Regions from separate parts of the Homo sapiens genome. Here region 1 is linked to region 2. Evidence: fine-mapped expression QTL. A gene starts in region 2. The other region holds a variant in brackets. All regions are shown on one strand. Distances are from middle to middle. Region 1 holds the start of C4BPA (complement component 4 binding protein alpha). Region 2 holds the start of YOD1 (YOD1 deubiquitinase).

Evidence for each region. PIP is the estimated chance that this variant, and not a neighbour inherited with it, causes the effect.
Region 1: its variant is fine-mapped to the expression of YOD1 in whole blood (TOPMed, PIP 0.99).

Annotation. Positions count from the first base shown.
Region 1 is chr1:207,097,438-207,110,151 of GRCh38, forward strand. It overlaps C4BPA (complement component 4 binding protein alpha), which reads left to right and starts at 6,796. Exons shown (of 12, transcript NM_000715.4): 1 at 6,796-6,993. C4BPB (complement component 4 binding protein beta) reads left to right here. Exons shown (of 7, transcript NM_001017365.3): 6 at 713-827; 7 at 2,352-2,556. The coding sequence ends at 2,492. The variant AAGG/A (reference allele first, on the strand shown) is at 7,490.
Region 2 is chr1:207,047,436-207,059,728 of GRCh38, forward strand. YOD1 (YOD1 deubiquitinase) reads right to left here and starts at 3,773. Exons shown (of 2, transcript NM_018566.4): 1 at 3,253-3,773; 2 at 1-2,288. The coding sequence starts at 3,595. The coding sequence ends at 1,585. PFKFB2 (6-phosphofructo-2-kinase/fructose-2,6-biphosphatase 2) reads left to right here and starts at 5,840. Exons shown (of 15, transcript NM_006212.2): 1 at 5,840-5,931; 2 at 7,266-7,367. The coding sequence starts at 7,283. RefSeq lists enhancers at 3,337-3,907, 5,131-5,770.

The DNA of each region.
Region 1 (12,714 bases), 50 kb after region 2:
CCTGAGCTCAAGTGATCCTCCCACCTTGGTTTCCCAAAGTCCTGGAAAGTGCTGGAATTACAAACATGAATCACTGTGCCTGGCCTAAAATGTATGTTTTTCTAAAAAAAAAAAAAAAAAAAAATCAGAGAATATAAATACTAAAAAACAAACATAGAAGTGCAGAAATATAAAGACTTAGTGTATAGACCCTTAAAGCCCCCTAATTAACTCAGAGTCATGTGGCCTCACTGGCATTTCGATCTCGTTATATACCTTCAATGCACTTTGCAGGCAACTCTCATATTTTTCTGATGAAAAGCAATTGCTCCTTTTTAGCCCCTTCGCTAAGATTTATTTGCAGGTGTCTCTCATTTTCTACTCCTTTTTAGAGCTTAGATGCCAGATGCCTTTTTAGGTTATTGAATGATAAAGTGCTTCTATCACTCTCCCCACCCAAAACCTGGGTGTGTAAACACCTGATTCAGAATTTCTCACTTCTCTATGTTTTATGGGTTGACTCATCACTTGGGTCCTCTCCTACCTCCAGGAAAATGGTTTTACTTTGAACTGCTTTGTAATACCGAGATAACTTAAGCATGCATTGAGGCTCAAGGGCAGGGAGGTGGATTCCATCACAGCATGAAATACTGAAATACAACTACACAAAACCAGTCTCCATTACCCAATTCAGAAAGTGGAAAAGCTAAGCCTTGTTCTAATTTCTGTTCAGGTACTACTTAGTGGGCGTGCAGGAGCAGCAATGCGTTGATGGGGAGTGGAGCAGTGCACTTCCAGTCTGCAAGTTGATCCAGGAAGCTCCCAAACCAGAGTGTGAGAAGGCACTTGTAAGTAGGAGGCTCATATCTGTCTTGTTCACAGCTGGATCTCCAGGGCCTGGCATCACTCCTGGCATATGCTCAGTATATATCTGTTTAATGTGGGACATTTTGCTTTTGAATGGGTTGGCCTTGGCCTGGCTGTAGAAGGGACTCATAAACTATTAACTCACATTTTTATAAATGGAAGTTGGAAGTTCCCATTCACTACCATCATCACAAATACCTCATGAGACCCTGTTGGTAGAAGTTGTTGTCTCATGTGCCTTATAGAGCAGTGGTTCCCAACCTTTTTGGCACCAGGGATGGGTATCATGGAAGATGACTTTTCCACGGATGGGGGTGGGGAGAGTGGGGATGGTTTGGGGATGATTCAGATGCATTACATTTATTGTGTACTTTATTTCTATTATTATTACATTGTAATATATAATAAAATGATTATATAACTCACCATAATGTAGAATCAGTGGGAGCCCTGAGCTTGTTTTCCTGCAACTAGAGGGTCCCATCTAGTTAGGAGTGATGGGAAACTGACAGATTATCAGGCATTAGATTCTCATCTGGGAGTGTTGGGAAACAGTGACAGATCATCAGGCATTAGATTCTCATCTGGGAGTGATGAGAGACAGTGACAGATCATCACACATTAGAATCTCATCTGGGAATGATGAGAGACAGTGACAGATCATCAGGCATTAGAATCTCATCTGGGAGTGATGGGAGACAGTGACAGATCATCAGGCATTAGATTCTCATCTGGGAGTGATGGGAGACAGTGACAGATCATCAGGCATTAGATTCTCATCTGGGAGTGATGGGAGACAGTGACAGATCATCAGGCATTAGATTCTCATCTGGGAGTGATGGGAGACAGTGACAGATCATCAGGCACTAGATTCTCATCTGGGAGTGATGGGAGACAGTGACAGGTTACCAGGCATTAGACTCTCATAAAGAGGGGTCAACCTAGATCCCTCGCATGAGCAGTTCACAATAGGTTTCACGCTCTTATGAGAATCTAATGCCACCTCTGACCTGACAGGAGGTGGAGCTCAGGCAGCAATGTGAGCAAAGCAGAGTGGCTATAAATACAGCTGAAGCTTTGCTTGCCTGCCCGCTGCTCACTTTCTGCTGTGTGGCCCAGTTCCTAATAGTCCGTGGACCGGTACCGGTCTGTGGCCCTGGGGTTGGGGATCCCTGTTATAGAGCAAAGCACATAAGCACAATGCGTGAGAATTGGAAAAGTCTCTAAAATTCTTCTAGGCTCCAAAACTAAACAAACAACACTGAACAGATCCATTTTCATTGAGATTCTTCTTTTAGTTCATATTTATTACTGGGATAATATTAATAAGTATATTTAAGCCAGAAAATATAAATGATTTGCCATGTTGAAAACCCAAATCTTTACTTAAGCTAGCCTGGTTCTGAGCCCCCATTCAGAGAGCTAACTGCTGCTCACTGGCTTCAGAGTATATAGCTGGGTCTCAGTCCTTATGTTGTAACTTGTGAAAAATTTTCTTTCTTCAGCTTGCCTTTCAGGAGAGTAAGAACCTCTGCGAAGCCATGGAGAACTTTATGCAACAATTAAAGGAAAGTGGCATGACAATGGAGGAGCTAAAATATTCTCTGGAGCTGAAGAAAGCTGAGTTGAAGGCAAAATTGTTGTAACACTACAGCTGAGCAGATGTAATAGAAATAAACCTATGAATAAATTTTCTTCTTGGTTCTGAAATTGGTTTCAGATTTACCTCTTATTGGGCTGAAATTGCCAACAGCAGTTGTATAATGCACCATGTGTGTGTGTGTGTGTGTGTGTGTGTGTGTGTGTGTGTATGTGTGTGTGTGTGTGTGTGTGTGTTGTTCTCAGAATGTGAAAAGGCCAAATGTAGTGGTTGTCTAAGGCCAGAATTAGCAACATATTATTGGAGAATAGAGGGCTTAATTTCCAGTCTGTAAGGAGAATGGAAAACTCTGATCTCAGCCGAGAGAGTAACTCGTATTTTAACATGAGACCATGAATTATGAAACCAAAACTAACCGCAACTTATGAGGCAAAAATTAACCTTCCATTTTGGAAAAGATGCTTAGAATAGTTACATCCTTAAAAATGACCCACTGGGACAGAAGGAGAGCTAGGACCCAAATTCTCCTCCCAGTCTTGCCCACATCTGGCTTACGGAAACAGGTTTCCAAAGCTGCAGGAAAATTGCTTACTGCCTCTTGAATGAAACCTGGTCCTGCATGATAAATTAGAGATGGTGCAACACAAGTGAATATATTTCTTCTCTTTTTTAGAAACAAAAATTTTATATTATTTTTTACTTACAATTCTCCTTTTTTAGAGGGTAGAAGAAATAAGAATCCTAAGGCTTTCAATCAAAATGTCATACTGAGCTGGCATGACAAGCTTCTCCCACCTCTCGTCCTGACTGCTACCTGAAACACGTAGGATATCTAGATAAAGTGCAACCAAAATATATAAGCCAGCTTGAAATAATGGAAAATCGCTAGGTAAAGTTATGAAGGGGAATAAGAGATGGACTCTTGAGTACCCCAGAGTCTACTAATAGGCACAAGACATGTACACACGTAGCATTATTTTAGAGTGGTTAGAATGAACTAAACATTTTCAGACAACAGTGGGCTATGAGAGCTCAGATGAGAGGAGGTTCACTTCTGTCTGGGAGGAGGAGGCAGGAATATTGTCAAGGAAGAAGTCACAGTTATTTGGGCCTTCAAAAGTAAGTGAGAATTAGAGACAAAGATTAAAGAGCTCATTCCAGTTGGAAAGAATATTTGAGAAATGGAGTAAGACAATAATAAGATTTAAAACCAATTTTTTTTTTTGAGATGGAGTTTCGCTCTTGTTGCCCAGGCTAGAGTGCAATGGCGTGATCTCAGCTCACCACAACCTCTGCCTCCTGGGTTCAAGCGATTCTCCTGCCTCTGCCTCCTGAGTAGCTGGGATTACAGGCATGCGCCACCATGCCCGGCTAATTTTGTATTTTTAGTAGAGACGGGGTTTCCCTATGTTGGTCAGGCTGTCTCGAACTCCTGACCTCAGGTGATCTGCCCGCCTCGGCCTCCCAAAGTGCTGGGATTACAAGCATGAGCTACCACGCCTGGCCAATAATAAGATTTTTAACCAAGTAAATTCATTCCTAGGATTAATCTAACTGGAGGAAAATGATTTGAAATTGAAGCTACTTCTTATTTGTACATATTATCTATCTAGGAGGATCTTATGAGCATTTGAAATGTCTACTCTTAGGAAAATTTTGAATAAATTATGGTACTTTAAATGTAATGCAGACCTATATGGTGATAAATATGAGGAAGTAGAAAATCTTAAAAATACAATCTTAAGTAAAAATAGAATATTTAATAACAAGGGCTTATGATTGCATTTATGTAAAACCTTTATTCTTGTGGGAAAGGATTAGACAATAATAGGCACAGATAAAAACATTTGTCTTAGAATATGAAATTATAAGTGTTTATTCTCTTAAAACTTTTTAATGTTGTAAAATGAATTTCTAATAATAATTTTAGAAGGCATTGCACAGAGGCAGAAAAAATGGGATATGTTTAGGAACTTGCACATAGCCTGGACTGGCCTAGATGAAGCATGGAAATTGGTGAGAGAGAAGGTGGCTGGAAAGATAAGTCAAAGCCAGTTTATGGAGGCTTTTGAATGACGTGCTAGAGAATATACACTTGTTTTTGGTAGGCAGAGAATATACATTTGTTTTTTGGCAGTCAGACCATGAAGACATGGAAGCCTTGCAAACAATGAAGTAATAAGGACAGAACATAAAGAAAGATTTCTCTCACAATGTTGGTTGTAGTATTGGTTGATGAGGGAAAAGAACTAAGAGAAACCAACGAAAGGACTCCTACAATAGTCCATATGGGAGGCATTATCAACCTGAACTGGTTTGGTGGCAGCAGAAATGAAAAAGCAGCAGCAGACACGAGAGATATTGAAAACTTGTATCAAAACAACCTGTCAACTAATCAAACATTGAAGGGTGAGGGAGAGGAAGAGTTCAAAAGTGAATCTGAAATTTTATTCCCGAGAACCAGAGGTCAGAAAAAGCTGGGGTCAGAAAGTGAAGCTTGTTGGCCGGAAATGAGAAATTCCTCTTTGGATGTGCTGAGGGTGAAGTGCTTGCAAGATGTCCAGTGGGGGGAAAAAAAAAACAAAACCTAAGAAAGTAAGTCTTGAGTTTCGGAGAGTAATCAGAAATAATAATGTAGTGCTGGCTAGTCTTCTTACTGGTAATAGTTAAAGCTGTGACAGAAGGCAAGATCATTAAAATTGCGAAGATAATTTTTTTAAAAAAAGAAGAGCCTGAGATATATCTATATTTAGGAATGAGAAGGAGGAAGAGAAGGTAACAGTAACTAAGAAAGAGAAATTAGTTAAGTTAAGGGAATCAGGTAAGTTTAGTGTCATGGAAGCCAAAGGAGAAGAGAGTTTCAGAAAGGAAATGATCAGCAGTGACAAAGGCTGCAGACAGATCCTAAGAAATGAATTAAAGATATTTTGGACTTGGACCTAAGGGCGTGCCTCAGAGAGACATGTCAGTAGAAGAGTGGTAGAAGCCAGATGGGAAAGCAACAGGTGGAGTGATGAATGAGAAAGAACAGGCAGGTAGAACAAGTCACACCTTTGAGAAGTTCAGCATCACACTAAAGAAGAAAGGTGGAATTTGAGGTATTGGCAAAATTGAAGGGACATTTCAGGATGAGAGATGCATTGAAAATGAGGCAGGAAAAGAAGAAACAATTCTCCTCGGAATGAGGAGTGAATAGGAGGGAAAATTTGACATTGATGAAGCTAAGGTAGAATGATTTTTAGTAAAGTAGGAGGTAAGAGCATCTGCTGAGAGGGAATGTGACAATTTGGTGACCTGGAGAGAAAAATCTGCAAGAGTCACTGTGGAAAGTAAACGAAAGGACTTCAATACATTGGAAAACGGTACTTTAAAGAAATAGCAGCTTTAAAGGTGATATTTCTTCCAATTTAGTCTCAAGACTGTGCAATCTGGAATCCTCCTCTATCTTCATTCTGGTCAAATCAGTGTCTCACCTTGGTGACCTAGCGCATGGTTTCTTTACATCTAATATCCTTACCACTTTTATCTAATAATTTCTACCTTTTATCCAAATCTCACATCTTCTGTAGAAACTTCCTTGATTAACTCAACCTGTTGTAGTTTAGTTCCTTTTCTGAAACTCTTCTGGGACTTTCAGTATTTATTACAGAAAAAGTGAAGTTCTCAGAAAGAATTGCCTTTTAATAGCAATCTTCTGAGCACACAAATCTTAACCTTGAGGATTAGTAGCTTAATTGGACTATGTAAGTGCTTGTGGTCTTTTTAGATCTATGCGAGAGGAAACATGGCCGGTCCTTCATTGCGTTCTTCTGAGCGCACTGGATAGATCAATTTTTGGAGGCCCTCTGGTGCCTGACATGTAGTAGCAGTTAACATTTGCTGAACTCCAAATACGTTCTAGATAACTCAGCACATAGTGGAAACCCAATGCATGTTTGATAAATTCCCCACCTTTTGTAATTCCTTGGGGTGGGATAGAGACGAGCTCTGGGCAAGAATATCAGTTTTCAAACTCCAGGAAAGCATACTGGACCTAGTGTCATGGAAAGTGGATCATTTTTGCGGAGGCTCTCTGAACCTCGCAGTATCCAAGGTTTCCAGGCTAGCTGGACTGTGTCTTGCCATAACCCTTATGTGTTTATGAAAAGAAAAAAGAATTCTGGCTTCAAATTCAAATTACCTTTCCACTTAGGGGAAATGGTTGGCAGAGGAGAAAATAAACGATTGCGACATGTTACGAAGAATGAGGACTAGCAAAGAGGAAGGAGCTTAGGTAAACAGTGCTGCTTTATTTCTGCTGTTAATCATTCATTGGGCCCGTCAAAAGTTTCTGCCCATCTATTTCCATCAACCGTCCTTGACCAGCCAACCACATGGCTGAAATTCAGGGACTCTTTGGTGGAGCAATTACCAGTCAACTTCAGGGTATTATGATAAACTCTGATCTGGGGAGGAACCAGGACTACATAGATCAAGGCAGTTTTCTTCTTTGAGAAACTATCCCAGATATCATCATAGAGTCTTCTGCTCTTCCTCAACTACCAAAGGTCGGTGGACTACTAAACCCTTGGGGAAGCTTGGAGGAAAGGCTGGTGGTTTGGCCCTTTAAGGAGTGCAGGATTAGAAGGATAAAACAGAGACAAAAGCTTGGAGGTGTTTTCAGCAGAAATCTTTTCAGGAGCACTGTATTAGGGGGATGTAAGACTTGAGACGTACTTTAAACCCTATCTGAACCTCAAGTTTTAAAAATTATAAATGGAGGAATAATATTGCATTCTAATAAAATAAGCTAAAGAAGAAGAGGTGTAAGGTGTTGCTCTTGTTACTGTATCTAAAAGACAGATGTGTTGGTTTGTTGATCTTTCACCACCTTCCCACATCAGAGTTGAGGCAAGGGGTCAATCAGACTTTTCAAAGGGTTCACAGGAAGCTTGCTTTTCTTAGTCTACATTCTGAAAACTGGGGCCATTTCTATTTTGAGATTTGATTAACCACTCCAAATCTCCTCCACCACTGACAGCAAAGATGTTTAGATTTGGTAAT[AAGG/A]AGGACACTGGCCAGCCTCCAGTTGGTTTCTGAAGCTAGCAGTCTTAGTCGTCCTCATCTTCTTTACTTTCTGAATTTGACGATGCTGATAACCCTTCCTTCTTGAAATTCTCTTCTTCCTTGGTTGGCCAGGATACAGTACCATTCTGGTCCTCATTTTAATTCTTCAACCACTTGTCTCTTTGCTGATTCCTATTCTATCTCTAAATATGGTAACACCAAAAGAATAAAAAGTAGACTACAGAAGAGGCAGAAGCATCAAAGAAGGTTGGCATTAAGCTTAGAGATATGTTTGAATGTAGTATGAGCACAGAATAAAGGGGCTGATAGAAAAATAAAGAGATTTGGCCAGGTACGGTGGCTCACTCCTGTAATCCCAGCACTTTGGGAGGCCGAGGCTGGCGGATCACCTGAGGTCGGGAGTTCGAGACCAGCCTGACCAACATGGAGAACCCCTGTCTCTACTAAAATTACAAAATTAGCCAGGCATGGTGGCACATGTCTGTAATCCCAGCTACTTGGGAGGCTGAGGCAGGAGGATCATTTGAACCAGGGAGGCAGAGGTTGGGGTGAGCTGAGATCGTGCCATTGCACTCTAGTCTGGGCAACAAGAGTGAAACTCCACCTCAAAAAAAAAAAAAAAAGAAAAAAAAAAGAGATTCTAGGAAGGGTGGGGAAAGTGTGGGAGCCAGTTCTTTCTGGAGTTTGTAAGTGATATAATTGAGAGCCCAGGTATAAGGAAGAAGACACTCAGCCCGAGACTGGAGAAAAATACTATCCTTTCACAAGGTATCTGCATTTTAAAAGGGGGAAGTTAGACAAAATAAATATTAACTTAAAAAGTAACTTCTCATGGAAGGAGAAATTTGAGGACTAAAGATTTTTCCAGTGACTCTCAAATTGCACTGCATTGCTAAGTGCTGATATTATTTTTCACAAGGGACCCGCCATGCTGACTAAAGTTCTTGAGTTGGTTCCATTTCTGCAGGAATTTAAAAGGTGAAGTCCTTGAAATATGAAAGTTGGCTAGAGTAGTCTCAGCTTTTCAGTGAGCAGTTACAGAATTGCAGAATTTGTTCATCTAGGTTTAATGTCATTATTTTAGAGATGGAGGGAACTGATATCCAAGAAGCTGATATAGCTTCTTCAAGATCACAGACTTAGACTGTGGTATTGCTGGAACTCCAACTTGTGTCTTCTCAGCTCGCAAGTTCTAGCCTCCATTCCCATACTCTGTGGCCAGCTGGTTTCTGCTGAGGGACCACCAGGAGTAGTTATGGTGAACTGCAAATGCCGTAGTTGGAGAAGAGTTAGGATGCATCCTGATGGTTTGTTAGGGAAGTCTAGTCACTGTATTATCTCTCTTCAAAACTGACAAAGCATTTCACACACATTATTTCATTTGGTCCTCAGTGAGACAGTCATTCTCATTCTAAAGATAAAATTAAATTGACTTTCATTCCTTTTAGATTTATTATTGTTTATTCTGTCTTATTCCTTCCTCCGTGTAAGTTTTTTTTTTTTTTTTGAAACGGAGTCTCGCTTTGTTGCCCAGACTGGAGTGCGGTGGTGCAATCTCTGCTCACTGCAAGCTCCGTCTCCCGGGTTCACAGGCCATTCTCCTGCCTCAGCCTCCCGAGTAGCTGGGACTACAGGCGCCCGCCACCACGCCCAGCTAATTTTTTGTCTTTTTAGTAGAGACAGGGTTTCACCGTGTTAGCCAGGATGGTCTCGACTTCCTGACCTCGTGATCTGCCTGCCTTGGCCTCCCAAAGTGCTGGGATTACAGGCGTGAGCCACTGCACCCGGCCTCCTCTGTGTAAGTTTTAAGCTAGTTAAATTCTGGTGCTCAAATTAGGTCTTTCTAAAGGCAGTGAAAGAAATCTCTGCGAAATAAGGAGGAACTCTTTTCTCTTCCTCTGCATCTGCAAAAAAGCAGATGATAATCTGCGTGATAAAACTGACCTTGCAAATGTTTTTTTTTAACAAAGGAGTCACGGGGTTATATAGACCAATTACAATACCACGTTAGAGATGGAAAGTTGAATAAACACCTTCCTTGTCTTCAAGGAATTCACAATGTATTTCGGGAGGCAAAAGCAAATAGATAGTTAGGATACAAAACAATGCTACAATTAAGGTATTAGCCAAGTACTAGAAGAACAGAAAACACTGGCATTTCATGATGAAGTCAGGCAATGCTTCACCAAGGAGGTGACATTTGATCTGAATAGTGAGTAAAGGAATAGTGAGTAAAGGAGAAGTTGGAGGTAAGAGCATTAATGCATGGGAGACATTAACTGCAAATGCTTGCAGGTGTTTTTTAAAAAAATCCTGGCTTTGTATGGTGGCTCACGCCTATAATTCCAGCACTTTGGGAGGCCGAGGTGGGAGGTTCACTTGAGGCCAGGAGTTCAAGACCAGCTTGAGCAACATAGTGAGACCCCTGTCTTTACAAAAAATTAAAAAATTAGCTGGGTGTGATGGCACGCTCCTGTGGTCCCAGCTACTGGGGAGACTGAGGTGGGAGCATCATTCGAGTCCAGGAGGTTGAGGCTGCAGTGAGCTGTGATTGCACCACTTCACTCCAGCTTGGGTGACACAGAGTGAGACCCTGTCTCAAAAAAGAAATCCAGAATGTTTTTGGGGAAGGGTAAGTGCCTCCTTGAGACTGAAGCATGGTGTTCTAAGTGAGAAATGATGGGAAAACTGGGACAGATAGGGGAACCTATGGAAACTGGGAACCATGAATGTTTTTAAGCAGAGTAACAACACATAAATTGCTTTTTAGGGACATAATGGCATCAACATGGAAGCTGGCTTATAAATGTTTGAAGGCTTTTGCAGTGGTCTAGGGTGAGGGGAAGGGAATTATAGGAACCTAAACCTGGACTATGGAAGTGGAGTGTTGGAGAGAGTGGCAGATTCTGGTGCAGCTGCTATGACCAACTTGATAGGACTTGACGACTCTGAATAGTGCAAGGAGGTGAGACAGAGGAGGCAATAATGACTTGGATTTCTAGTCTGGGAGGCTGGGTGGAGATTGTCACCTTCACTGAGACAGAAAGCACAGATATTAAGTAGTGTTGGAGGAACATAGTGAATTTAGTTTGAAACATGTTAAATTCAAGGTGCCTGGGAGATACAAATGAAGTGATTGGAAATATTGATTTGAACCTTGGGAATTTTAACTTAAATTATTATTATTATTATTATTTGCTTAAATGAGAAATCTAACAGAGTCAAAAAGTTTTAGTTTACTTTCAAGTTTGCAGATAAAGAGGAAAGTGTAATAATTATTTCTGGATTTGGCAAGGAAAACTCACAAGCACTTATAACTTTCAGTAAACAGAAATGTTTATTTAAATATTATTCCAGAAAAAAAAATTCACTAAGATAACCAGTCAGAATTACACTTTTCTGAGGTTAAAATTACTGTCATGTGGCAGAGCAATCTCTAAAATCCAGGAACGACTCCTTTGTTAGAAAAAACATTTGCAAGGTCAGTTTTGTCACGTAGATTATCATCTGCTTTTTTGCAGCTGCAGAGGAAAAGAGTTCCTCCTTATTTTACAGAGATTTATTTCATTGCCTTTAGAAAGACGTAATTTGAGCACCAGAATTTAACTAGTTAGCAACCAGAGTAAAGAAGACAAGCCTGAATAGCTTAAAACTTACACGGAGGAAGGAATAAGACAGAATAAAATAATTATTAACAATTGAATTTATGGAGCATGGAAGTTTTTGCATGAACCAGAGACAATTAGGCCCAGAGGTCTGTGGGTGATTCATTTTATTTATTTATTTATTTTTGAGACGGAGTCTCTCTGTCGCCCAGGCTGGAGTGCAGTGGTGTGATCTCGGATCACTGTAACCTTTGCCTCCCGGGTTCAAGCGATTAACCTGCCTCAGCCTCCTGAGTAGCTGGGATTACAGGCGTGCACCACCACACCCAGCTAATTTTTGTATTTTTAGTAGAGACGGGGTTTCACCATGTTAGTCAGGCCGGTCTTGAACTCCTGACCTCGTGATCTGCCCGCCTCAGCCTCCCAAAGTGCTGGGATTACAGGCGTGAGCTACCGCGTCTGACCTGTGGGTGATTCAGGTATGATGATTAAAGTTATGGATGTGGATGACTTCCTTTCAGGAAGATAGTTGAGGGCAAGGGAAGACAAAGCCCCAGGACAGCCCCAGAGGCCCCAGCATTCCTCTGCTGTGCATGACACATTAGATCTCACTGTACCAAAGGCCACAGTGGAGACCAGATCCAGGGCTTCTAGCCGGAAGTTCAGTGGATGCTCCTCTGCACTGGGGTGTAATTAAAGTCCCTGGTGATGCAACCATTTATTGCAATTTTAAATCATTATGATGACAATGTTTTGACATCCAGGAGTTTGGCTTCTGACAGAGTGACATTCCAATGCCAATTCTATGAAACTCTTCCCTATAATTTCTTTTGAATGTTTACTATGTGCTGTCCACACACCATGCCAAGCCCCTCTCAGAAATTCCGAGATATAATTACAGTTATCCTTCTTATTTTATAATAAAGGAAACTGAGGCTTAGAGGAACTGAGTGTTTTGTCCATGGGACTCGGTTCCCATGTGGTAGAGCCAGGACGCCAACTCACATGTTCTGGGTGTGACTCCAGAGCCCATGCCCAAGGTCTTGGCCACACTGTCCTCCTCTGTCCCCAGCTCTGTGGCCATGGCCTAGGTGTGAGGATGAAGTAAAGGGAGTGAAATAACTTCCTCATCACAGTGTAGGGTCTGCATTTGTCTGTATCTCCTGTCATAACCTGTGGAAGGAGGAGAACCAGTTTTTGCCTACTGCTTCCCTCCTTCACTGTCCTCCCTTGACTAGTTGATGATATGATGACTTCAGTTTAAGAATGGAAGAGCCTAGAGTAAAATTATTTGGGCCAGTTCTCATTAAAATACAGGTGTTTGCCTTGCTTTAAAATCAGGTAAAATCAGTCCTTAACAAAGCATACACTGTAAGGGGAGACACTGATATGGCACAGTACTACTTTTCTTTGGAACACACGTTATCACTAGGAGCTTTTGGATTTAAATTCAATGCACATTTTGTGAGCACTTTAACTTCATGAGGCGCAGGCTAGGTACTATTGTGGGGCAGAAATAAATGGGAGCATACTCTGTCATTTCAAGGATCTTGTGGTTTAGTGGTGAAGGCAGACTTCAGATGTGAGTTACAGACC
Region 2 (12,293 bases):
TTTTAAAACATTTGCTAGGCAGATATGCTGAAAAAGATCCAAGTGCTTTAAAGTATACCACTGAATTTCTAAGTGAGATACTTAATAAAAAAGAGACCAAAATAACAAAACTTCACATTAAGCCTCTTCACATTATGTGAGATAATACATAACAAATTATAATTTAGCATCCCTGATCAGAATAATTAAGAAAAGAGGTAGAAAACTTTTATCTGGAAGATCTTGTAGTGAAGCTAAGTTTTAGAGGGTGTGCCTTGCGGATTAGTCCACTAAGCAAATGGCTACACATCTAGTACTAGGAAGAAGCAGAATTCTGAGAAAGCTGCATAAGGCAAGGATTTACAATTTTTTCTATTTTGGAAGTGAAACTAGTTCATTCAACAGTATTACTCCAATTGCTTTAAAACTTCAAAAATCAAAGTAAAAGATTGCAGATAAGCAAAGTGCTAATTTGCAGAAATGTGAAATTATTTAAAATAACTTTAGTGGAGGGATAAGGCTAGCACAAAAGCAAACACTCTTTAGGTGTGCAAAAAATCTTACAAAAACCAACCCAAAGCAGAGCATTATTACTTGAAAAAAATTTTTTGGAGGAAGTGCTCTTAACAAAAAGCTGAGAAAATTAAATTCCCCCCGATAAACTTTACGCAAATGAAGAAAAAACTGAGGACTCGAATTTCAAGGAATTTCAATTAAAAAAGTACCCTGCTTAACTTTAAAATGTTATCCAATGTGACAAAGACCAATACATGAATTGCATTAAAACACGAGGCCAACGGTCTTTTAAAGCTTCAGGAAGCTGCTCAGGCACCTATTCCCTCATACATTCTACGTTTTATATGCTAGAGATCTTAAACAGGGCACAATCAGTTCCTGTTTTGTGATAACATTCTCAAGGATGAGACTCATCCCTGTAAAAATTGCTTGTGATGTACTTATCAGTGGTTAAGCACACATTTATAATGTCTACCAAATTGCAATATAAAATCAGTTTGGACAATTCTGAGTATCTTCATTTGATGAATCAATTCATAATTTAGAAACTTAACTCATTCAGAGTTTTTAAAAAGACTCAGTTACTGGAGACACTGTGGTAAATGTCCAGTGGACTCACAGGAGGCCTTCCACATTACCCAAAATGTGATGCTTTCTTCTACAAGTTAAAGCTGCTGGGTGCTAGTTTATAATACTCAATCTCAATCGTATGCCCAGTGGACTCACAGGAGGCCTTCCACATTACCCAAAATGTGATGCTTTCTTCTACAAGTTAAAGCTGCTGGGTGCTAGTTTATAATACTCAATCTCAACCTTCAGGTCAGTGTCAGTAGGTGGCAAGGATCACCTATTCTGTCACTCCAGCAGAAAGAGGCATGTATGTACAGTTTACCACTGTAGACACACATCTGTAAACTTGCACACTAATTTTAATCTTAACAAGGAATTTCAGTGTCTTAGTGGTTTTAAGTTAAAAGGATGGTTCAAGCATTGTATCCTTTGTTCTTTAGGGTTACCATAGCTTATTGGAAAACCCAGAGCCTTCTGGATGTGTGAGGTAGTAGGCTTCAACCCTCATTCATGCATAGGTCACACTTCTCCAAAGTTGGTATGGCCTGTCTCCTTGGCATGTTCCCTTGCTTCTGCTTGTCCAGTTAATCCTTTCTGACATACCATGCATCTCAGGGTGAAGCGGTTGACATCAGTAAACTGTCTCCTTCTTCTAGCTTCATCTGCTAATTCCAGTGCTTGTACAAGAACAATATCATCATTAGAGGAGAAAATGGTCAGAGGAGGTGTATCTGGATCAGGGAAGTTACGCTGAAGTGGATCATAGTGGATGCCATCATAAATAAGCAGAACCCTTTTGGTATATCCTGCATCTTCCCCAAAACGATCAATTCTTACTGTCTGTGTATCCACTACACATATTTCACATTGGTAAAACTTGGACAAAATCGATATCTCTATTGCTCCTCCCCAAGTGTCATCCCTTTTGATCCAGTCACAGTACTCTTGATTTGTTTTTCCCAGTATTGCCTCACTATAGAAGTCTGGATCGCTTGCTACAATTTGTGCTATGAGGCGTCTCATCTCAGGGGCACAAGCTGGATTCAAGACTCCTCCTTCGACGACATAGTACACACTAGTAAAGAGGCAAGAGTTGTCTGCTGGGACCACGGTTCTGGTAAGCACAGGCAAAGTTTCCCTGACGTAACTAGAAGCACCACGTTTAGTAAATGCAGGTGAACTTCTGGGCCTGGTTTGGTCTTCTTCAATGATCAGCATGTCACCTGTTAAAAATAAAACAAATCCCGATCTGCAAAGAAATTACAGAAGAAACCGAGTGTTCTCTAGCCAAGTCTGTAAATTACAAACTGAAGGAGTTAAAGCATAAACTGGGGTTACTAAGGAGAATACAGTTTTGCAAGTAAGTTACCAGTAAGAATCTTTGTTCACTGAATTTTCATAAAGATGAAAAAAGAACAAAAAACACTTGAGGTTGCATCCCAATTTAGTGAAGGGGTCTGGAGTAAACAACTTCAAGCTTACCTAAAAAGATACATTTCAAAAACAAAATTTCCTTTCCTTATACAGTATTTTACAGAAGGTGCTCACTACAGAGTAGGCCGCTAGGGGGTTCTCCTTCTCCGGAAACTTATCTACTCTAGAGTGTTTACAACATCCTTGATACAGCAACTGAAAGCTTTTAATTATAAACACTGATGTTCAAGTTTTGATATGGCACAGAAATAACTGCTGCTGGTTAGAAATTGAAAGAGCTTTCAGTGGGTGTTTTAAAAGCTAACTCGAAAATGAGTATGCCTGTCAAACGAAGTATCTACGAAGGGGACTGCAAAAATGAATCAAGAAAAAAAAAATCCTGCACCCTTGAGATCTCATCGGTGATATAGGGAAAAAGAGACATAAGGACAGAGAAAATAGGCCCTACTTTATATTTTTGTGGACGCCGAGGGAAAACAAAATGGGATAGTTTCAAAGCCGACCAGAAAGCGGAATGGGGAAGGGGGTCTTCAAGGCTTTGGGTTCCCTTTCAACCCTGTGTCAAGACAAGGAGTTGCTAGACACTTGCCCTGGCCCCCGTCAGCATTCTCTGTTCTTTGATCTATCCTCGCCCCTGGCCTCAAAGCCCCCCCGCCGACTCACAGCCACCTTGCCTTGACTGGTGTTTTGTTCTCTCTCACGCCCCTCTCCATCCTCCCGGGACTTTCCCTGGCCCCAGCCCTGATTCCTTACCAGATTGGATGGGCAAGTCTTCCAGAATGGTATCCCCATTGCTGAGATCCAGGCACTCGGGAGGGTATCCGACGAGGATTCGCTGACCGCCGGGGGCGATCCCGGTGATGGCGGCAATTTGGCCCTGGAGTTCCCGCACCCGGGTCCGGCTGGACAGCCCCTGCAAAACATGGGTGCCGTCCTTGGCCTTGCAGCGGAGCCGCCACATCGTGTCGGTCCGGCTGCCCACAGGCCAGGCACCCGCGGGGCCAGCTTTGGTCCCGGCAGCCTGTTGGGAGACGCCGCCGGGGAAACCAGGCGCCGGGTGGACTCCAAAATGGCGACCTTTAGCGGGGCCAAACATCGCGAGAAGTTGCGGGTGGTTGCAGTTATCGCGACGCTTCGGTGCGGCTTCTGCCTTAGTACCTTAGCAAGCGCGAACTCTTTTAAAGTGACAACTGATTTTTCCCCCACCCTCAGAACGAAGATGTAAACCTCCGTATTCCTAAAGGACAACGGGTCTTGCTACCTATAGAGCGAGTGAGGTGCCCTCCGCGTGGGTAGCATATATGCTCAAGAAAAGAGGGCGGGGGAAGGAGTTCCTGAATGAAGGTCTGGAGATTGGAATGTGACCTTGCACTTAGTGAGGTCGGAAATTATTAAATTGGGGCTTCCACACTACACCCAGACTACACCAGGAGAAACAGAATCATAGTTCACAACGCAAACGAATGCCAGGAATGGTCAGTGAGTCAAAGGACCAGTCAAAAACAATCACACTTGTGACTAGACTCGTGGCTGCATTAAACATTGACTCATTGGGGTTCCAGGGGCCAAAAGACTGGCCTTTCTGCCTCCCTGGGACTGTGCTTGAAAACGTCTATTTGCCACTTCAGAAAGCACAGTATGAGGTCAGCATCTGGGCCCAGGGCAGCTGCCTCATTCAGGTGGTGGCAGTGTAAGGAGGAGTCGTGTAACGCGTGTCATCAGATTCCAGTTCAGTTCCTGGGCATACAAATATGAAGACTTCATTCCTGCCTTCATTGTAACAAGTATTCATTGCAGTTGGGAGACAGGGTGGGGTGTGAGACACACAGCCACTGAATTTCAAAGCAACGTGATAATGCTAGATTATCTGTACCTTTTCAAACGTGTATGCCTAGAACCCAGGACTGTGCCTCGCAAATAAAAAGTGTTCAACAAATACTGGCTGAATGAATAAAGACAGAGTTGTATAGACATAGAGAGGGCAACTAGAGCACTCTGGGAGTTGTAAAAAGCCTTAAAGAGGAGATAACTGTTTGAACTTTTGGAAGAATTAGTTTAATTCCCAGGCGAAGGAGGAATAAAGACATCCCTGAATTTATATCTCTCTTTTCCAAGAAATCCATACTCATTGTTCTTTATCCAGCCGGGATTCAGACAGCAAGTCCCACTTGCCAAGAGTGGGTTTATCAAGCATCAAACGGGCCCGCTGGGGCAACTATGAAAAGTGTAGTTCACTTGGTGCAAACTCACCTCCACTGTAAAAGACTTTGCTTCTGAATAAATTATATGTAATGTTTCCATCTTTTCACATCTTTCATGACTCAATTTTTTTTTGCTGGTGCAATTTTCCTCCTTGGTTCTTCAAGACGACTGCAACGGATGATACAGCCTGGGTTAGGGGGTAGGTAGGAGGGAAGGTAGGAGTGGTTAGAAGTCCACCGGGGTGGCCGGGCGCAGTGGCTCACACCTGTAATCCCAGCACTTTGGGAGGCCGAGGCGGGTGAATCACCCGAGGTCAGAAGTTCGAGACCAGCCTCATCAATATGGAGAAACCCCGTCTCTACTAAAAATACAAAATTAGCTGGGCGTGGTGGTCCATGCCTTTAATTCTAGATACTGGGAGGCAGGAGAATCGCTTGAACACGGGAGGCAAAAGTTGCGGTGCCAAGGTCGTGCCATTGCACTCCAGCCTGGGCAACAAGAGCAAAACTCCATCTCAAAAAACAAAAACCAAACCAAACCAAAACAAAAAAAACTCCAATGGGGTGTATGGGTGGGTCCAGGGAAGCTTCTGGTTCAACGATGAGAGTGGTTGATTTTCTTAGGTCACAGCGTCTGACCTGTGGAGCCGGGTATGTATACACCCTAAGGCATAATTAGCTCAAGTGTTGTGGTAGTTTATTCTAGCAAAAACATCTTTAAAGCTTACGTTCCCATTTATGGATCTAATGAGGTTCTGCTGGGATTCAGGAATGAGAGCGTTAATCTTTGCAGCATTTTCTCGTCACCCGGCACACCCGCTCTCAAGACGCCTACCGAATAGTCTACTCTCGCGAGAGTCAGAAAAAAGTCAAGCTTTTTATTAACACCGCCCCCAGCCCTATTAGTTACCAAGCAACAGTGCCACCAGGCTCCTCGGCGCTGGGAAACTCAGGAGCTTGTGATCTCTCTGGTTCCGACTTCCAGCCGCCTTCCCGAGCCAGTTAGGCGATTGCGACCCTGCCCCGCCCCCTGGGTCCTGCAGGCGCCCGATTGGTGGATGATTCTCTCCAGGTGAGGACCTACGCGCGAGGGGGCGGGGCCAGACGGGCTCACATGATTTGCCGGCGACTGTAGCGCCGGTCCCGGCCACAAGCTGTCGGCTCGGTTCGGTCGCGTTACAGGGCAGGCGCCGGGGCCAAGGCAGGGAGGGATCTTAGGAGAGATCGTAGGGTGAGCCACAGCTGCGCAGCCCCGGGTAGGGTCTAGCGGGGCGGGATGTGGGGGCTGCGTGCCCCCGGATGAAGTGCGGGGAGAGGTGCTGGTCCCCAGGCATGGCAGGCAGCGCGGACGTTCTGGGACCGGGAGCCACAGTCTGTGTTTGGGTTGGAGGATTTGTGTGGTCAGTAAAGGAATCGTGTAAGGCTCTTGAAGGCGCAGGATCTTCCGTCCTCACCAGCCCCCTGTTGTCTGAATTGGGGGCATGAGCTCAGGACTTTCCCACTCCAGTTTGAATCAGGGCTTACCCCTCTTCCTGAGGTGACCTTGGGGAAGTCATTTACCACCTCAGCGCTCCGGCGTTCTTTAGACTGAGTCCCGGGGGTAACTAGGGAGAGGGTGCGGAGCAGGGCTTGAGAATGCACTAGAGGAGAAATGACGACGTGCTAGGGCTGTCTTGGGGTCCAGTTACTGTTTTTCCTTCAGGGAATATGTTCGAGATTTTCCCACGTCCCTCACTTTTTTCTTTTCTTTCTTTCTTTTTCATTTTTCATTTTTTTTTTTTTTTTTTTTGACAGAGTCTCGCTCTGTCGCTAGGCTGGAGTGCAGTGGCGGGATCTTGGCTCACTGCAACCTCCGCCTCCCGGGTTCAAGCGATTCTCCTGCCTCAGCCTCCCGAGTAGCTGGGACTACAGGCGCGCACCACCAGGCCCGGCTAATTTTTGTATTTTTAGTAGAGACGAGGTTTCACCATGTTGGCCAGGATGGTCTCTATCTCTTGACCTCTTGATCCGCCCGCCTCAGCCTCCCCAAGTGTTGGAATTCCAGGAGTGAGCCACCGTGCCCGGCCTCACTGTTTGCAAAACTGAGTCCTACCGTTAGATTGGAGTTAATTTCCTGGTAATGTACTTCGTCTATACATAACCCACCCCACCCCAACTGCTGCCACTACTCTGCCCAGATTCTTAAAACTAGAATCTGAGGTCATGAAACCTTGAGCAGGACACTTAATTCGATGAATCTCAAATTTTCAATCTGTAAAATGAGAAGAAATAATGGTGGCAAAATCTGCCTAATTACAAGATTATTGTTAGGACTGAAGAAGATAACGTCTGTAAATGTAGACTCGTAAGTCAGAAGATAAATGTAAGGTTCTAGTGCAACTCTTTTTATAGGTGAGGAAACAGAGGGCTAGAGAAGTAGCTGCTAACTGGGAGAAACAGGACTGAACCTGCCTCTTGGCCCAGGGTGTTTTTACTTATACCACACGGATCCAATGCACTGACTTTTTTTAAGTTATGTCTTCTTTCTTCCCCTTCCCTTTTTTACATTCTACTTCTCTGTTTCAGACATCTGAAGAGCTGCCATGTCTGGGGCATCTTCCTCAGAACAGAACAACAACAGCTATGAAACCAAAACCCCAAATCTTCGAATGTCAGAGAAGAAATGTTGTGAGTTCTGGCAGAGAGGAGGGACTGCTCTCTCTCAGCATTTTATCTTGGGAATATAGTTATAATCCTGGACTCTGCTGCTTGGTGGGAGTGATAAATAATTATTTGACATGGAAATTTAATGCAAAGTCTCCAGGGTAGAATGTCCTGTCTAAAACAAGTAGACTTAGTGAAATGTCTGTTCTTGGGGCTTGACTACTGGTGTAGTCCAGCAGTTTCTTACTGCTTTCTTAAACTGAATCTCTGTCTCCTGGGATGTTTGCACACTGGCTTGCTGATGGAAGTTAGAACTAACATTATTGTACACACAATGAGTAAGGCACAGTTGCAGGTGCAGGAATTACTTGGAGCTGGTAATGTTACCAGCTTTATCTGTTGGGCTAAGTTTTGGGAGAGTGCTGCTCATTGTAGAAATTGCAGATGGGAGCCAGTGCTGCTTGGTTTCCTTCCTACAGGCCTGAGGGGAATGAGCCCTGACACTTGGCTTCTCACAGTGTCTTGGGCATCTTACTTTCTCACAGGTTTAGCCTTTGTACTTTGTAAACTATTTTCCCTATAGGTTCATTTTTTTGAGGACAGCTTTCACATGAGCATTTTCATTTCTATGCCTGTCTTTTAGATAGAAACAGCAGGAGGGTTTGCGAGGAGATGAAGCATCATTTCCTGTCCCCAAGCATCTGTATTTCTAAGCATCATAGGCTGCATAGCTTCCCAAAAGATCTGGGACTCTGTTCCCCACATATTTTGGGGAACTTCAAGGAATGCTAACTCTTGCCTCTGCTTCTGGATGGCACCATTCCTGCAGAATCCTGTCAGTCAGTTCTTCTCACTTCAGTGGTTATATATATATATATATATATAGCCAGTTAGTCAAGGAATATATATATCTCAGCAGGTGGAAACAGCCGACCAGCATGAGACCAGGAATTATCTCATGTTCAAAGCTTTTCCCAGAGCCTCGACCTTGATGTCATGCCCTTGTCAGTTTCATGATTGACAATGATAATCTCTCTTCACCTAGCACCCATGGAGCCTGCTGGACAGAAGCAGCTGGCTGGATGTGATACTGGGGTTGGCAGAGTTAGGGTCTACAATTAGGGTCTCTTTTCTCTGCCAGGGCAAGAAGCCAGGTGCTAAGGGCAGAATACCCCATGAGAGATAACTAGTATAGCATGATGTTTGAGTATAGCCTCTGGAGTCAGACTGCCTGAGTTTGAATCCCGGGTTTATGACTTCTTAGCTCTTGAACAAGTTGCTTGTTCTCTCCATGCCTCAGTTTACTCCTTTTAAAAGTGGGAATACTAACAGTGTCTCCCCCAAGAGTGATGTGAGGATTAAATGACTAAATGTAGGAAGGCGCTTAGAAGAGTGTTGGGCATATATCTAATGTGTGTTATTTTTCACAGGTGACTCAATCTGCCTGTTGTATTTATTCCTGAAATGTTTATATTGAATCATACTCAAATGCTGTATTGGAAGCTCACTATTTAAAAGAGGGCTGTGAATAATTATTTTTTCAGTAAAAAATGTTTTCTTCTCTTATTTGACAATATTGTAACCCAGATTTGGGGATCTAGGATGCACCTCTTACAGGGAGGTACACTAATGTTACTAGGGTGCTTGATCCAAAAGAGAGCTGGGGCTGGGGGGCAGGATCGATAATTGTGGGAGTCTCTGACTACACGATGCCATGTGTCAGTCCTTCTAGCTTTGCTTTTTTCTCCATGGTAGGAATCTCTTCTACCTGCTTTCCTAACTCTTCTGTAGTTCCTTTGCCTTGAGGGCTTTCAAGTCAGGGAAGCAGTAATCCCTGGTTTCTTTCCTGTCTTCTAGACTCTAATTCCTGCTCTGGGCTCTAATCTCTTTTTTTCCATACTCTAGTTTCTCTAAATGCCTTTTTCTTCTCTAAGAAGAAGAAGGTGTCCTAAAGCCACTGTGATTTATTTACCCTATTCTCTCCTCACGTCACAGTCGGGCTGTGAGACTGTTGCAGACATAGTCAAAGGAGAAAATAAAGTTATGAGTATATGTGTTAACTTACTTCCTTTTCCTCTGCTATAGAGCTGTACTTTGGAGCTGGTTCACCTGGCAGCTTAGTGTTCACATCAGCGGCTGCTTTATTAATAGCTTAACCGTTGTTCCCTTGCTGCTCATTACACCTGTGTTGGCTAACTTTGACTCCGGGAAGTGACTGGGCTTGAGGATTTCAGGGCTGAAGAATGACTTTAGGGAGCCAAAACCTCCGAAGGAGCATTACTGGGACTTCAACTGCTCCAGGGATGGGGCGAAGAGGGGCTACTGGCCGAGGTGCCTTTACGGTGCTCAGAGGACTGGTTTCAGGGCTTATGAAAGCAGAAATGGAGGGCCGGGTGTGGTGGCTCACGCCTGTAATCCCAGCACTTTGGGAGGCCGAGGAGGGTGGATCATGAGGTCAGGAGATCAAGACCATCCTGGCTAACATGGTGAAACCCCGTCTCTACTAAAAATACAAAAAAACTACAAAAAAAAAAAAAAAAAAAAAAAAAACTAGCCGGGCATGGTGGCGGGCGCCTGTAGTCCCAGCTACTCGGGAAGCTGAGGCAGGAGAATGGCTTGAACCCGGGAGGCGGAGCTTGCAGTGAGCCGAGATCGCGCCACTGCACTACAGCCTGGGTGACAAAGTGAGACTCCATCTCAGGGGGAAAAAAAAAAAGCAGAAATGGAGAAATCTACATGCTTTTTTTTTTTCTTTTTAATTTTTTTTTTTGAGTAGTTCTGGAACAGACAAATTCTTCCATGTACCTTTCCCTAAATACAAAAGCAATGTATGTTCATAAAAAATTCAAACTACAGAAAGGATTTAGAAAGCGAAAAGTAAAAGACTCCTGTTTCTTCCAAATTTGATTCTTTTAGACATCTTATTCTGGTATATCCTATTAATAAAGGTAGGTTCATATTGTTCATATTCTGTTCAGCTGCCATTTCCTTTTTTATTTTTTTAAATAAGTTACTGTCTTGTGGACATCCTTTTAATGTTGATAAATGCAGATTTACCTCATTCTGCATTGTATGGATATGCCAGCTTTCCACGGATAGGTATTTAAATTGTTTCCAGTTTTTCATCATCACAAAGAGTGCTGCAGTGACCATTCTTACACGTACACCTTTGCACATTTGTGACAGCAACTTTTCCTACAGAAATAATAGAAAAGATAGACACATTGGAAATGTTCATCAGTATTACTAATTTGCTCTCCTAAGAAGTTCTATATTGTAAGCTGTTTTCAATATTTTAAGATATTTGATGGAAATTGGGCAGCATCAACTATAGCCATAGTGGTTAACTGAAACATCAGCTTTCTTAGTGTTTGACCGTAGTTATACGAACTTGGTTATTTCATGCCTGTCAACTGGCAGGAGATAATCAGCAGTTCTGACTTCTGATGAATAAAGATAAAATGTCACTAATGAAACATGCTTTATGGGCAGCATATTTCTAAATATTAGGCCTCTTTAGAGCCAATAAAAGAAGACGTCCTGGGTCCTGAAAAGGCTGGGAACCATTGCTCTCCTAGACCATCCTTCAGGATTAGAATGGAGAGCAAGTTGTGTTTACCGTGAGGGAACCTTTGTCAAGTGCTGACATGAGGCACAGGAGCTGGCAGCTGGGACTGAATGGGCAGTCATGAGATCAGGAGACTGGTCAGAACCCTGACCTTGACTGTCTATTGTGGGACCATGGGCAAAGCTCTTAATTTCTCCAGGCTTGAGTTTTTCCATTTACACGAGGGAAGTTATCAAGTCCTCATTTTTTTTGTAAATCTTTTTTTTAAAATACATTTATTTATTTATTTTGAGACCGGGTTATGAGACTGGCTAATTTTTATATTTTTAGTAGAGATAGTGTTTCACCATGTTGCCAAGGCTGGTCTCAAACTCCTGGGTTCAGGCGATCCACCCAACTTGGCCTCCCAAAGTGAGGATTACAGGCATAAGCCACTGCGCCCAGCCTCAAGTCTTCATTTTATCTAAGCAAGTTTATGAAAGGAAAATGAGTTTAAGTTTAAGAAAAGGAGTTGAACCTGGCTTAAAGAAGGTGGAAGAGAATTTCAGGATTGAAACAGTTTTCCATTGTCTATCAAGAGATGGGTTACATTGTCTCTGAAATTAATCAGGTGGCAGTGGCAGGTGGTTTTGTTTTTTAACAGGCAGGACAGAATGTTCCTACTTTTGCCAGTGTGGTAATTTGAGATAGGAAGTGTGGTTTAGTTTTGTACTCCAGAAAATGAGAAGCCCTGGTTGTAGCAGGTGTGCTTAAGTGTATTCTGGACAGAGGCGAGAGGTGCGTTGCTGGAGGGCTCTTGGGAGGTCCCAGTGGATGCAGTTTTTTGTTGTTGTTGTTCTTAGCATTCTCTGTCCACATGGGTAAACAAGAGCAGCTGGTTCCCTGGTTGCCTTCAGAGCAGCTCCCAAGTATCAGTTCATTTTAAACTTTAGGGAGGGTAATAGGACCTTCGGGGGAAGTGCCTAATGGGCTGGAAGGTGCGGACAAAGCAGGCCTAGAAGTGCAGGTAATGAGCCAAATCATGGGGGATTGAGAGCAGGCATTGAGCCGAGCTGGAGAAAGTGAAGACTCAGGGGATTTTACTACTTAAACCTGAGACAGCTGATCCCATGCAGAGGCTATCTGCTTGTTAGGGGCCAGTGATCAGGGATTAATGCCAGCTGAGGCTTCAGGGTACAGTTTGCTTGCCTTTAAGCTCCCTATTTGAACACAGATGAAAATCACTTATGTTGCTCCTTTACCTACCTTGGAGGGGCTCCTGCTGAGACTCAGGAATTTTCCATGTGTGCAGTGGGTAAAGGACTAAAAGCCAAGCCCTCTGACCCCAGGTCTGGGCCTCCATTTCTCCCTCCTCACCACTAGGGTCACTCTGAGTACTTCTT